2 separate regions of the Homo sapiens genome follow, and region 2 is reported to be linked to region 1. The links are microRNA targets in miRTarBase. Many come from high-throughput screens and were not tested one by one. Region 1 holds a microRNA gene; the other region holds the end of a gene's coding sequence.
Evidence for each region. The annotated mature microRNA hsa-miR-4530 reads CCCAGCAGGACGGGAGCG and lies in region 1 at 4,431-4,448, shown strand. An mRNA with a match to its seed (bases 2 to 7 or 8) in the 3' UTR can be bound and repressed. Matches are read on the target gene's strand: a 7mer-m8 pairs with bases 2 to 8, a 7mer-A1 pairs with bases 2 to 7 and ends in A, and an 8mer does both.

Region 1 (8,156 bases):
CCCAGCAGAGTCCTGCAGAAAGAGCCCCTTCTTGGATATCAGGACCCCATGGGCCTCTCCGCCGCCCAGACTCACAGATGGGGGCTGGGAATTAGGAGCGTGGTGTAAATCCAGGGAGGGGCCCCTGGGAGTAACTAATGGGGGAGGCACAAAGTGACAGAAAGAAGGGGACAAGGAGAGAGAACCTGGCGAAAAAGATGGAAAGGCTGAGACAAAGAAGAGTGAGCGGAGCAGGAGGCGCAGAAGCTGCGAGTCCCGTTTGTCTGGGGCCGGAGGCTTAGGGATCCTGGGAACGTTTGGGCTCCAGCTGGAGCGGAGGGCGAGGGGCAGGGCTGGGAAAAGCCGTGGGCGGGAGGCCGCGGGGTCCCAGGGGAGGGCGGAGGCTGGGGGACCGGATGCCAGGGTCCTGCAGACGGCTCCCTCCCCCGCCGAGGGCTGCGCGCTGGGGCGCTGGCCCCGAGCCCTCGCACCCCCTCCGGCCGGTCTCTCCGAACCCCGATCGCCGTCCCCACAGCCACAGCCTCCCCAGCGCCTTCCCACACCCCTCCAGCCCCCAACTCCCGCCGGCGCCTCGGCTCGCCCCCCGCCGGCACGCCCCCTCATTGTTCAGCAGTGGCGCCGCCCCCTCCCCCAGTCCGCCTGGGCCCCTCGCCTCCCCCCTCACCTCCCGGGGAGCCTCCAGCCCCGGCTCGAGGCAGCCCGGCTCCTGCGCGACCCCGACGCGGTCCCCAGGGAGGTGCGGAGCCCAGACTCAGGGGCGTGAACTTCGGGCTCTCAGGCTCCAGGAATAGAATCTGGGGTCTCTCGGAGACTGGGGTCCCGCAGTCGGAATTTCTCAGTGTTCTACGTAGGGGATGCTAGGAGCCTCGACTCTGGAGTCTCAGATGGCGGCGCTGGGGACCCACATTCCTAAGTCTTCTAGGTAGGGCCGTGGGGTGGGGGATGGATTTCTGAGTTCCCCTAATTCTAGGGGCAGGAATGAAACTCCCTCCAGGTGGGAGCACAGGGGGGTCCCAAAGTCCTGGGTCCCCTTGAAGCGATGGCCGCTGCAGCCCGAAACTGGTTGGGGCGCTTAGAAGTCCGGATCTCAAGTTCCTCCAACGCGGGGTCTTGGGATCGGAGCCCTGGAGGGAGTCTGCGGTCCTGGATCCTGAGTTCTTGAAACGGGGATACGGGGCGCTCGGCCTCCAGGGTCTCGCGGGGTGACGTCCGGGCTCCCGGCTGCTCCAGGAGGGGGCGCTGCGCACCTGGATGGCTCAAGTCCTCCAGCCTGGGCGCCGGGGTCTGGACCTCGGGGTCTCTCAGGATGCGGTGCAGAAATTCCGGACGCCCGGGTCCGAGCCTCTGGACCCCTCGGGCTCCCGGCTGGGTGTCACGGGGCTCGTGTGACGGCGGCGGCGCCACATCTGGGGCGGGAGAGTCCGATCCCAGCTGTGAGGCGGGGGGCGGTCGCCCGGGGCTTCCCCTCCCCCGCTGTCGCCGGGGCTCACATCCTGTTCCCGCCTGCGGGGGGGGGAGGGGCTGCCTTCCGGCCGACCCGCCAGCGAAGGGTTAAGACCCCACCCCTTGTTTTGAATATTCATGAGGAGGCGTGTCCTTCTGGTAGGCGACACCCCTACATTCCAAACGCCTCGCGGACTTTTCCCTTTTACAGCAAGGGCCGCGAGGCGTGAGAATCCGGAACTGGCAATGCACTGTCTCCTATTGGTCAATGCAAAATGTTTAATTTGCATATATAACACAAGGCGGGGCCCTCCGGTGAGGTCACGTGGCTATGAACCACTGAAGAAGACCCCGGCGCAGGGGTGCGGCCGGAGCTCCAGTGGCGCAATCGGTTAGCGCGCGGTACTTATATGACAGTGCGAGCGGAGCAATGCCGAGGTTGTGAGTTCGATCCTCACCTGGAGCACTTTTTTTCCCCATCAGTTTTTATAAACTTACACATCTAATAAACCAACCAAAACATCTACATCACTTAGATGAATGAACGTTTCTATCTTTTGAATTATTGGGCTCAAAAGACTCCTAGGGCTTTGGCGACGGTCCTTTGGGTGTTCTGTATTGTAGGGAGGTGCCGTTTCCGTCCCAGCCACCAGGTGGGGGTATCGTCTCTTATTAGATGCTCTGGGCATGGAATTGTGTGCAAACAGTTTGACTTCTGTAGAGATGTGGGTCCTCGGCAAACTGTATATGACTCTGCCTCCTCTGTATTTCTCTGTCTTTTTAATGCCTCCTTTACAGATGAACATAGCTATCTGTCTTGGAGTTTTCGACCTCTGTTGAAAAGGAAAACTATGTTTTTGAGTCGACTTGTTTTTTCAATAAATATTGAACATTCACTATGCCTGGCTTCCTTTAGCTGTGTGTAATACAGCAGTGAACAAGTAGTCCCTGCCCCTGAGGACGCGACATTCTAGTGGGGAGGCAGATTGCTGTCAACATAAGAATTAAGTACATTTTAATGTTAGGTGGTGATGATAAATGTCATGGAAAAAGTCGAGCAAGGTAGGGAGGATGGGGTAGTTGGAGGTGGGGTGTGGATTGCAACAGCAGTGGTCAGGGAGGATCTCACAGAGAAGGCAACTTTTGAGCAGAGACATGAAGGAGGGGAGTGAGCCATGGGGACACCAGGGGAGTGTTCAGGCAGAGGGAACAGCTAGTGCAAAGCTCCTATGGATGAAGCAGACCAGACTTGGTAGAGCAGCTAGGAGGCCAGTGTGGCTGGAGCAGAGTGGCCAAGGGGGAGGGTAAGCGATGGGTGCCAGATTGTGTGGGCTGTGGGGAGGACTTCGGACTTTGACTTTTATGTGACCTGACTCAGGTCTCATAACAGGCTTCCTTTGGTTGTCTCGTGGGGGAGTGGAGAAAGGAGAGACTGAAGGCAGGGGCTAGAGCAGAGACTGGGGCTGGGGCTGCTATGAAGATGCAAATGGCAGACGATGTTGGCTAGGACCAGGGTGGGGGTCATGGTGGGGGCAGGTGGATAGTGGATCTATTTTGCAGGTGGATCAGACAGGATTGCTGTTGGACTGGGGTGTGGATTTGAGAACAAGGTGTCAAGGGATACTCCTGGGTGTCTGGCTTAAGCCCTGGTAGATGGTGAGAAGTGCCGTTTTCTTATATGAGGGATTTTTTGGGGAAGGGGCAGAGAATCAGATCTGGCTAAAGGAAGGACCAGAGATGTTGTTCTTTCAGTCTCCAAGACTGTTTCTGCAAATGTCTCTTCACTGCTTGCTCTTGGTCTCTGCCCCTCTGCTGCCTTTGCATCTCAGGGGTTCTGACTCCCTCTCGCCTGATCCTCTTCTACTTATTAGGGCCTGAGCCCTTTCCCACAAGGGAAGCAGTTTCCTGGAAGAGGAGACCAAATGTCAGTGAGCAAGGGGAGTGGGCCAAGGAGGCCTGAGAGCAGGAGGGAGGCTTGAGGAGGGTAGAGAGAAGGGAGAGGAGGGAAAGGGGCTTCAGAGGGAGAGAGAAGAGGAGAAGGAGTAAGGCTAGGGGGAGGAGGGGAAGAGGACAATGGGGAGTGGGAGGGCAAGGAAAGGGTGGAGAGGGAAAGAAGGACGGAAAAAGGGAGAGAAGGGAGACGGGAAGGAGGAGAAAGGGGGTAAGAGACGGCAGGATGGGGAGGCTGGAAGTGGGAGAGGAGTAATGAGGGAGGGGACAAATTGGAGGGGGAGAGAAGAACAGAAGGCAAAGGGTGTAGGGCGGGGCAGAAGGGTGCAGAGGAGGAAGTGAAAAAGAGGAGGAAGGGTGAGGGTAGGGAAAGGAGAGAAGAGGGAAGTGAGAGGGAGGAGGGAGGAGTGCGGGGCAAGGAGAAAAAAGAGGGGTCGCAGGGGGCGAAGGCTGGGCGGCAGGGCCGAGCCGCAGGCGCTGACGCAGGGCGGCTTCCGGGCGCGGGGCCCCGGGGTTGGTCCCGACGACGCTGGCCTTGTATGGTCTGAAGACGCGGCTCCCCCGGGGCCCCTCCTAGACGCGCGGCCCCTACCCACACGCCCTGGCCTCGCGGGGCCGACCCTGGTCGGTGTGCGAAGCCTCGGACTTCCAAGGTTCGGAAATGCCAAGACCCGGTAATTCCCGGGCTCCAGGGTCCCGGGTGGCCAGAAATCTGCAACTCCGAGCCACCAGGGGTCTAGAGTCTAAAGCGCTAGGGGATGCAACCTGTGACTCCCAAATGTTGAGATCCTAGCCTCTTGAGACCCTAAACCCGCTTCCCCAACATCCAGAAGGTGTCGAAGCCCCCCCGGAACCTCTAGTCCCGAAACGGGTTCCGCTACCCCAGGCTGCCCCGCCCCGCGCCCGCCCCCGCTCGCTCTGGGCGCGCGCCCCAGCACATTCCGTCCTCCCCACCCGGCCCCTCCCGCCTCCCGCGGCCCCGTGGGGACGGAAACATCCCGTCCCCGACCGCACCCGCCCGAAGCTGGGTCAAGGAGCCCAGCAGGACGGGAGCGCGGCGCCCCCGACGCCCGGGAACTGGCTCCCCCGGTTCCCATCTGGTGACCTCACCTGGTCCCACCCTTTCAGGTGAACGGCCAGGCCCGGTGACGTCACTTCCTGCCAGGTAAGCGCCGCGGGGCTCGGAGAGGAAGAGTTAACTGCACCCAGCTTCCAAAAAGTCACCCCCTCCCTCTCCATTCCTGTCTCTAGACCGCGAAGAAGCCAGGATCCCAGCTTACACTCAGATTGTTTATTTAAAAATGCCCAAAACACAAAAATAGACTTTTAAGGTAATAATATATATTACTAAATATATTATAGTCTACTTATAATAATTATATCGTCGTTTTCAATATTACAAAAAAAGGAAGAAAAATACAAGGGAAGCAGACGACCCAATATATATAAATACTATAAAATCATATTAGAATAAATAAAGTCGTCATAAATAAAGGGCCCATTGATTTATGGGTGGGGTTTGGCAACGGCTTTGGCTACTTGCTTTTGGAGGGTAATTTGAGCACCAGGATTCCCCCTCAGGAGAGGTTCCAGTTACCAGGAGACACTGGAACCTCAGGTCTATAAAAACTGGAGGGGCAGTGAAGGCCTATTATTCACAGCACATAAGATTCTAGGAGACAGATTTGGGCAGGGAAGAGGTGGGGGAGAGGGTTCATTGCCTCCCTTAAATATGCTACAATTTTTTTTCCCCCAAGAACCTCGGAAGACACTCCATCCCCCACCATCATGAATACTGAGCTTGCACACTTGGGGACCTGCCCCAGCGTGAGGTCAGGGGAGTGGGTTAATGCATTCTGGAAAAGGGGATTACTTGATTACTGTCCCCCAAGTCCCCACAGCCCTGGGGTCCATGCAGAGACCACAGTGCAAGAGACGTGGCTCCCCGCTGAGATCCAGCTGATCTGACCGGGCAGTCACTTTGTCACTCAGAAACAGAGATGCGATTGAAGATGGGGAGTCGCCGGGGGGCTGCCACGGGCTGGGGTGGTGCAAAAACTCCCGCCTCGAAGACGGGAGAGTCAGAGCCCCCCAGGCTGCTGCCGCTGCTGGCATATTCATCAGGGTCGGATCCCAGGGACTGTACAGAGGGGGTCCGAACCAGGCCACCCAAGGGCCCCCAGACGCTGATAGGAGTGGCCCTTCGGCAGGAGGGGCAACAGACTGGGGTGGGGTCTCTTCGAGCCAGGGGGGTGCCAGGGGCAGCAGAGAAGGCAGAGGGTGACAGTGGAAGGTCCCCAGGTGGTGGTGGGGAGCTGGAGGGCGAGAAGGAGCTGGAGGACAGGGAAGGGCCGGCCAGGCCTGGTGGTGGTGGTGAGGTCCGGCGGCCAGAGGGCAGGCCGGAGAAGCTGATGCTCTGGCGAAGCACAGGAGGGTGGCCCGGGGCCGCCAGGTCTTCGCTAGGGTTGTGGATGAAGTGGCAGCGAGAGCCGTAGGGGCAGCGGCCCTGGAGGTAGAACTTGTGACAGAGTTCCGTCTTGTATTTGGGGTGGCGATTGGCCTGGCGCAGCTCGCCCAGGCCATGGGCAAACTGGCACTTGGCCCCGTAGCGGCAGCGCCCACTCTCTGAGAAGGTCCGACATAGCTCAGTCTTGTAGCGCGAGGGGGTGGTGGAGGTTGCAGTGGGCGAAGTGGGTGAGGGTGACAGCTCAGGGCCCAGGCGGGGAGCCAGCGGTGCGAAGCCAGGGGGTGGGGGCACCCAGCCACAGCTGCGGCCCTCCACTAGGCTGGTGGAGCGGCCAGGCAGGCGGGAGGTGACCCCAGACGGGCTGGAGTCGGAGGGGCTCAGGCTCCAGGGTCCCGAGGAGCCCCAGCCTGGGCTGGACTCAGTCCCTCCATGGTCGGATGGCACGGGCACGTCAGGGCTCAGCGACAGGAGGCTCTGCGGAAATGGGTCGGTTAAGGCACCTGAAAATGCAGGGCGACGCCCCACCCCAGCTGCAGGGAACTAGAGCTTGCCAGGCCGGTTTGTGGGCTCCCCGCCTGAGCCCCACCCGCCCGCAGAAACCCCTGGGTTCCGGATGCCAGGAACCCAGAGTTGGAGGTTCTGAGTTTACCCACCACCGAGGCCTTATCCCGAGGGACCCAGGAATCCCGGCTTCCCCGGCTGGACCAAGAGGGGGACCCCGAAGTCAGGGCGCACCACTGTTTCCCAATTTTGGGTCTCTTGTCCTCCCCGGATATGACCCACGCGTCGGGATCTCCAGTTTCACAACTGGAGAAACCGGGCAAAGTTGACCTGGAAGTCCGGATTGCTTCGGTTTTAGGGTTCTCTGTCTCTACGGTCAGGGACTGGAGAGACAGAAGTCGGATCCCCCCACCCTGAGACTTCAGCCCCAGAGACGCCTCCGCGCAAAACCACGCCCTCAGCAACGACTAGGGGTGAGCCAGGTATGGGGGCCACTTCCGCCTCCAGGCAGCCTCGGTCTGAGAAAAGTTCTCCGACTTTCCACTTGCATGGGCCGCCCCACCCATGTTTGAGCGAAGAGCCGGGTGTCGCGGGTTCCATTTTCACCTCCAAATCACCAAGCTGGTCTGAGCGGGAGGCAGGGGCCCCAGGCTGGAGGGCGCGGCGCTAGGGAGCCCCAGTTGGAGAAGGGAGGCAAGCGTCCCGGGCTGGAGTTTGCGGCGCTAGAGAGGTGGGGACTCGGACTCAGGCATGCAGGTACCGGGGATGCCGTGCGGCGGGGACTCACCTCGTAGATGGCAGTCAGATCCATGGTGTAACGGTTGGCCATGAGGGGTGTCGGCCGAGAGTGGGAGCGCTGAAGTCAGGCTGAGGCTGGCACCGAGAGCCGGCTACTTATAGGAAACTGCAAGCACGGGGCGGGGCCGGGGCCGGGGCCGGGGGCGGGGCAGGAGGGGCGCTTCCCGGACGCGCGCCCCCGGCGCAGCCTGGCTGGCCCTGGACTGGTTCCCTTCCGCCCGGCCCTGGGCCAGGACGCGCCTGAGCTTGGCCGGTGGACAGCCGTGACCGAGCGGGGAATGCGTGGGGAAGGGGTGGGGGTGCGGATGGGGGGACGCCTGCCCAGTTTTCAAAGCTGGAGACTGAGGCTTGTAGAAGGAAACTGGGGCGGAGGTGGGGGCAGGGCCCCAGGGGCAATTGACAAGAGCAGAAGCCCGATGGGGGTGCGCGTGCGACACAGACGGATGGGGGCGGGGAGAGACGCAGAGGGGTACAGACAGGCAGACAGGCAGAGAGAAAAACATCGAGAGAGACACACACACCAAGAGACATACAGAGAGAGATAGACAGGGTGAGGAAGGGAGGGAAGACGGGGAGACAGAGACAGTCCCAGAGACAGATTCAGAGGGAGAAGAGGGTTGGGAGGATCACAAAAAGAAACAGAAAGGGGCTGAGCGCAGTGGCTCACACCTGTGATCCCAGCACTTTTTGTGTTTTTCTTTCCTTTTTCTTCTTCTTTTTTTTTTTTTTTGAAAGACGGGGTTTCCCTATGTTGCCCAGGCTAATCTCCAGCTCCGGGGCTCAAGCGATCCTCCCACCTCCGCCTCCCAAAGAGCTGGAATTACAGGTGTGAGCCACCAAGCCCGGCCAATCCCAGTACTTTCAGAGGATGAGGCAGGTGGATTACCTGAGATCAGGAGTTCAAGATCAGCCTGGGCAACAGTGAGATCCCATGTCTACAAAAAATACTATTTAAAAAAATTAAAAAGAAAAAGAAACTGGACAAAAAGGAGAAAGA
Region 2 (3,000 bases), not on the chromosome of region 1:
AGTGATCTGCCTGCCTCGGCCTCCCAAAGTGCTGGGATTACAGGTGTGAGCCACCGCACCTGGCCAGTTGAGAACTTTCTACATGGCAGGCACTGTTCTAAGTGCTCATTTCTCCTTCCAGCAACCCCACGCAGAAGGTCATCCCTACCTCTATTTCACAAATGAGGGGACTGAGGTACAGAGAGGTTAGGTGACATGGCCTCTGGCTACCTTAGCTCTGTAGAAGGCCAGGGAGAGGCACAGGGCTGGGTGCAGGGCCCACGGCTCCTGCCACAATTCTCCCCCTACTCTTGCTCCTCTCCTCACCACTGTCCCTTCTCTCTCCCTCTCCAGGAAGGAGTGTCTCGTGAGCTCCTCGGGGAATGACAACACGGAGAACGGCTTGCCTGGCTCCAAGGCAGAGGAGAAACCACCTTCAAAAGTGTGAGCCCTGCTTCGGGCTGAGCAGCTGCAGGGAGCCCCCTTTCTGATGATGAAACTGATGCTTGAGCCCCGACCGTAGAACCCACGTGCCTGAGACATCTGCTGCTTGGCTCAAACTGTAGTCTTTCCGGGCACAAGAAACCAGAGTCCTGCCCAGCCTGCCCATCCCCTTCCCAGTCAGGGCTCCCCAGGGACAAGGGATGGCCAGGGGAGGGGGTCTGTGGAAGATTCAGGAGAAAGAAAGGAGAGGCTAGGGTGGTGTGGAGGGGCTGGTCCCCTGACACCTGGGCAGATGGGGTCTCCTTCAGTCTCCCTACCCTGCACAAGCAGGGCCTTGATTTTCCTCCAGGCTTCTCTTCACAAGAGACTGGGAGGATCCGTAAGGGATGTCCTAAGAGCTGCACCCTGGAGATGGGGTGTAGGAAGAAGTGGCTTCCTTTGGAGGTGGGAGTGGGCTGGAGGCCTCTGGAGAAGACCTGGGGTGGGGGCTGATGGGGGCAGGCCCACAGTGAGAGACTGCCTCTGCTTCATAGGATACCAGATCCCCCACAGTCTTCCAAGTAGGAAACTTCCTTTCCCCTGCCCCGGGACCCTATCTGCCTATCCCCTCCCCTGCTCAGAGTTTTTAAGCCCTCTCAACCAGGGCTGGCCACCCTGGTCTTGAGGGTTCCTGGCCACCTAGCCTGCTCCTCTGCTCTCTGGGTTACTGAGGGGCTCAGGAAGGGGCCCCTCGAGCCTTCCTGGAGTACCCGAGTGCTCCCTATGCCTTTCCAAGCATTTCTACTTGGGGAATTGGGCCACAGAGGTAGTGAGCCAGTGTCCTGGGCCTCTGGGATGCCCGCCCCATTGCTGCCAATGCTGGCAGCCCCTCCCCTGGCATGGCAGGACCATCGCCACTCTGGGCACTCCTGAGCCCAGCTCTCCCCTGCTTCTCCCCCTCCTACCTGAGAGGCTGCACCCTCCAACCTCCCATTGGCTCGCTCCCCCCCCCCCACCGTGCCCTCCATCACGCCCTGCCCCCAGGGTGGTTCATTTCCCAGCCCTGGGTCAAGGGCCTGCCTTCGCCTCAGGGACTCTCTTCCTTTGGATGAGGGGGTCCTTGGGTTTCCCAGCTGCTTCCTGCTCAGCTGGGCCACCCCCTCCCACCCTGGGGTTGGGGAGGAGCAGGGAGTGGGTGCCCACAGTTTTCCTTTGCTTCTCCCAGAGCTGGTTTGCACAGCCCTTGTGTGTGGGGCTAGAATGTGCCTTAGTCCTGAATCCTAGCCCTTACCCCCATCCTCTCTAGACGGTATGTCCTGACATAACAGCAGAGTCTGGTGTGGTGCTGGTGAGGGTTCGCCAGCCCTCCCCTCCCCAGGGTCATAGAGGGGGCCATGAGGCTGGAATTGGCCAGTGACTGAATCTTGGAGATGTCGGCCAGGTGCTCCCATTGGGGTTTCTAGCCTGCCCTAGGGGGAGGTGGTGATGTTGGGAGTGGGATCTCCTGAGTCCTTGTTGGGCAGAATTGGTGAGGCCAGGGATGGCAGGGAAAAGTGGTAACAAGCCTCTCTGCCCATCTACTTCCAATCCCTCTCTCCCTTACTGATTTTTTGATGCCCTGTCTTCTGGGCCCCTAGGAGGGATGAGAGAGGAGTAGCCCCCTTTTTCAGAGAGTTTGGGGTCTACCTCAGAGCTCTCCCTGTCAAAAAGCAGCTGCAAGCCTCGCAAGGGTGGAGTGGGGGGAGACTGAGGACCAGTAGTACCTGCAGGGTGCCCGTGGCTGTGGCCAGTGTCCCTTAGCCAACCTGCTGGGCTCACCAGTTCCCCGTCTGATCTGCCTGTGCGCCTCCCATTCTTCTCTACCCAGAACCTGTCATGGGCTGGGGCTCAGATTTTCCTGGCTTTGGGAGCAGACAGACCAGAGCCACCAGCCATTCAGAAAACTTCTTATAGCTACCTTCATGCAAAACTGTTTTCTTCTTCCTTCTCAATGGTGACATTTGAAGAGGCAGAGCACCTTGGGGCTCCTCCTTCTGTCTTAAGAGAAAGCCAAGGCACGTAGAGTAGGGAGAAGAAGGGCACCATCCTCTCTTTCCTCCCCAGGGTCTACTGCTGATTTCTAGATGGATCATGCAGCTTCTCTCAGCTCAGCTCTTTCCATCTACCAAATGGGTGTAATAATACTTACCTACCTCACAGGACTGTTGTGAGGCTTGGCAAGTTTTGTCTAAAAACATCTTTTTGGCTTGGAAAGGGATCTGGGAAGCCAGGTATTAATTGCAGGGATAGTTCCAAGTCTGTCCTGTCTTCATCTCTGTGTCCCATCTCTACAACCCACATACAGACACACACACTCTCTCTCTCTTTCTTTCCATCCCACCCCCCTTGGAATTATTTAGTCTTTGCAATATTAGAAACCTTGACTCTGATGCTTAAAGCTTCTTGTCCATGGCTTTTGTTTGATGGTTTTCAATAGAGGTGACTGAGATTGTAGGGGGGGCATTTTTGGTTGCCCCCATGCGTGGGGGCACTACTAAGAATGCTAAACTTAGTCCCCACAACAAAGAATCATCCTGTCCCATGTCAACATTATACCCA

Region 2: the mRNA of SCN4B is a reported target of hsa-miR-4530. Seed matches in the 3' UTR shown: 7mer-m8 at 2,208-2,214.

Annotation. Positions count from the first base shown.
Region 1 is chr19:39,405,921-39,414,076 of GRCh38, reverse strand. MIR4530 (microRNA 4530) reads left to right here and starts at 4,399; the gene lies at 4,399-4,454. It overlaps ZFP36 (ZFP36 ring finger protein), which reads right to left and starts at 7,230. Exons shown (of 2, transcript NM_003407.5): 1 at 7,149-7,230; 2 at 4,670-6,334. The coding sequence starts at 7,172. The coding sequence ends at 5,378. PLEKHG2 (pleckstrin homology and RhoGEF domain containing G2) reads right to left here and starts at 1,408. Exons shown (of 19, transcript NM_022835.3): 1 at 665-1,408; 2 at 1-12. It overlaps TRI-TAT1-1 (tRNA-Ile (anticodon TAT) 1-1), which reads left to right and starts at 1,817; the gene lies at 1,817-1,909. RefSeq lists silencers at 317-376, 487-556, 567-706, 3,667-3,986, 4,337-4,396 and 2 more and enhancers at 1,807-1,856, 1,867-1,966, 4,049-4,639, 4,902-5,539, 5,540-6,178 and 3 more.
Region 2 is chr11:118,134,454-118,137,453 of GRCh38, reverse strand. It overlaps SCN4B (sodium voltage-gated channel beta subunit 4), which reads left to right. Exons shown (of 5, transcript NM_174934.4): 5 at 334-3,000. The coding sequence ends at 427. Among named protein-coding and RNA genes, the nearest start is that of SCN4B, 17 kb to the left of the region's middle.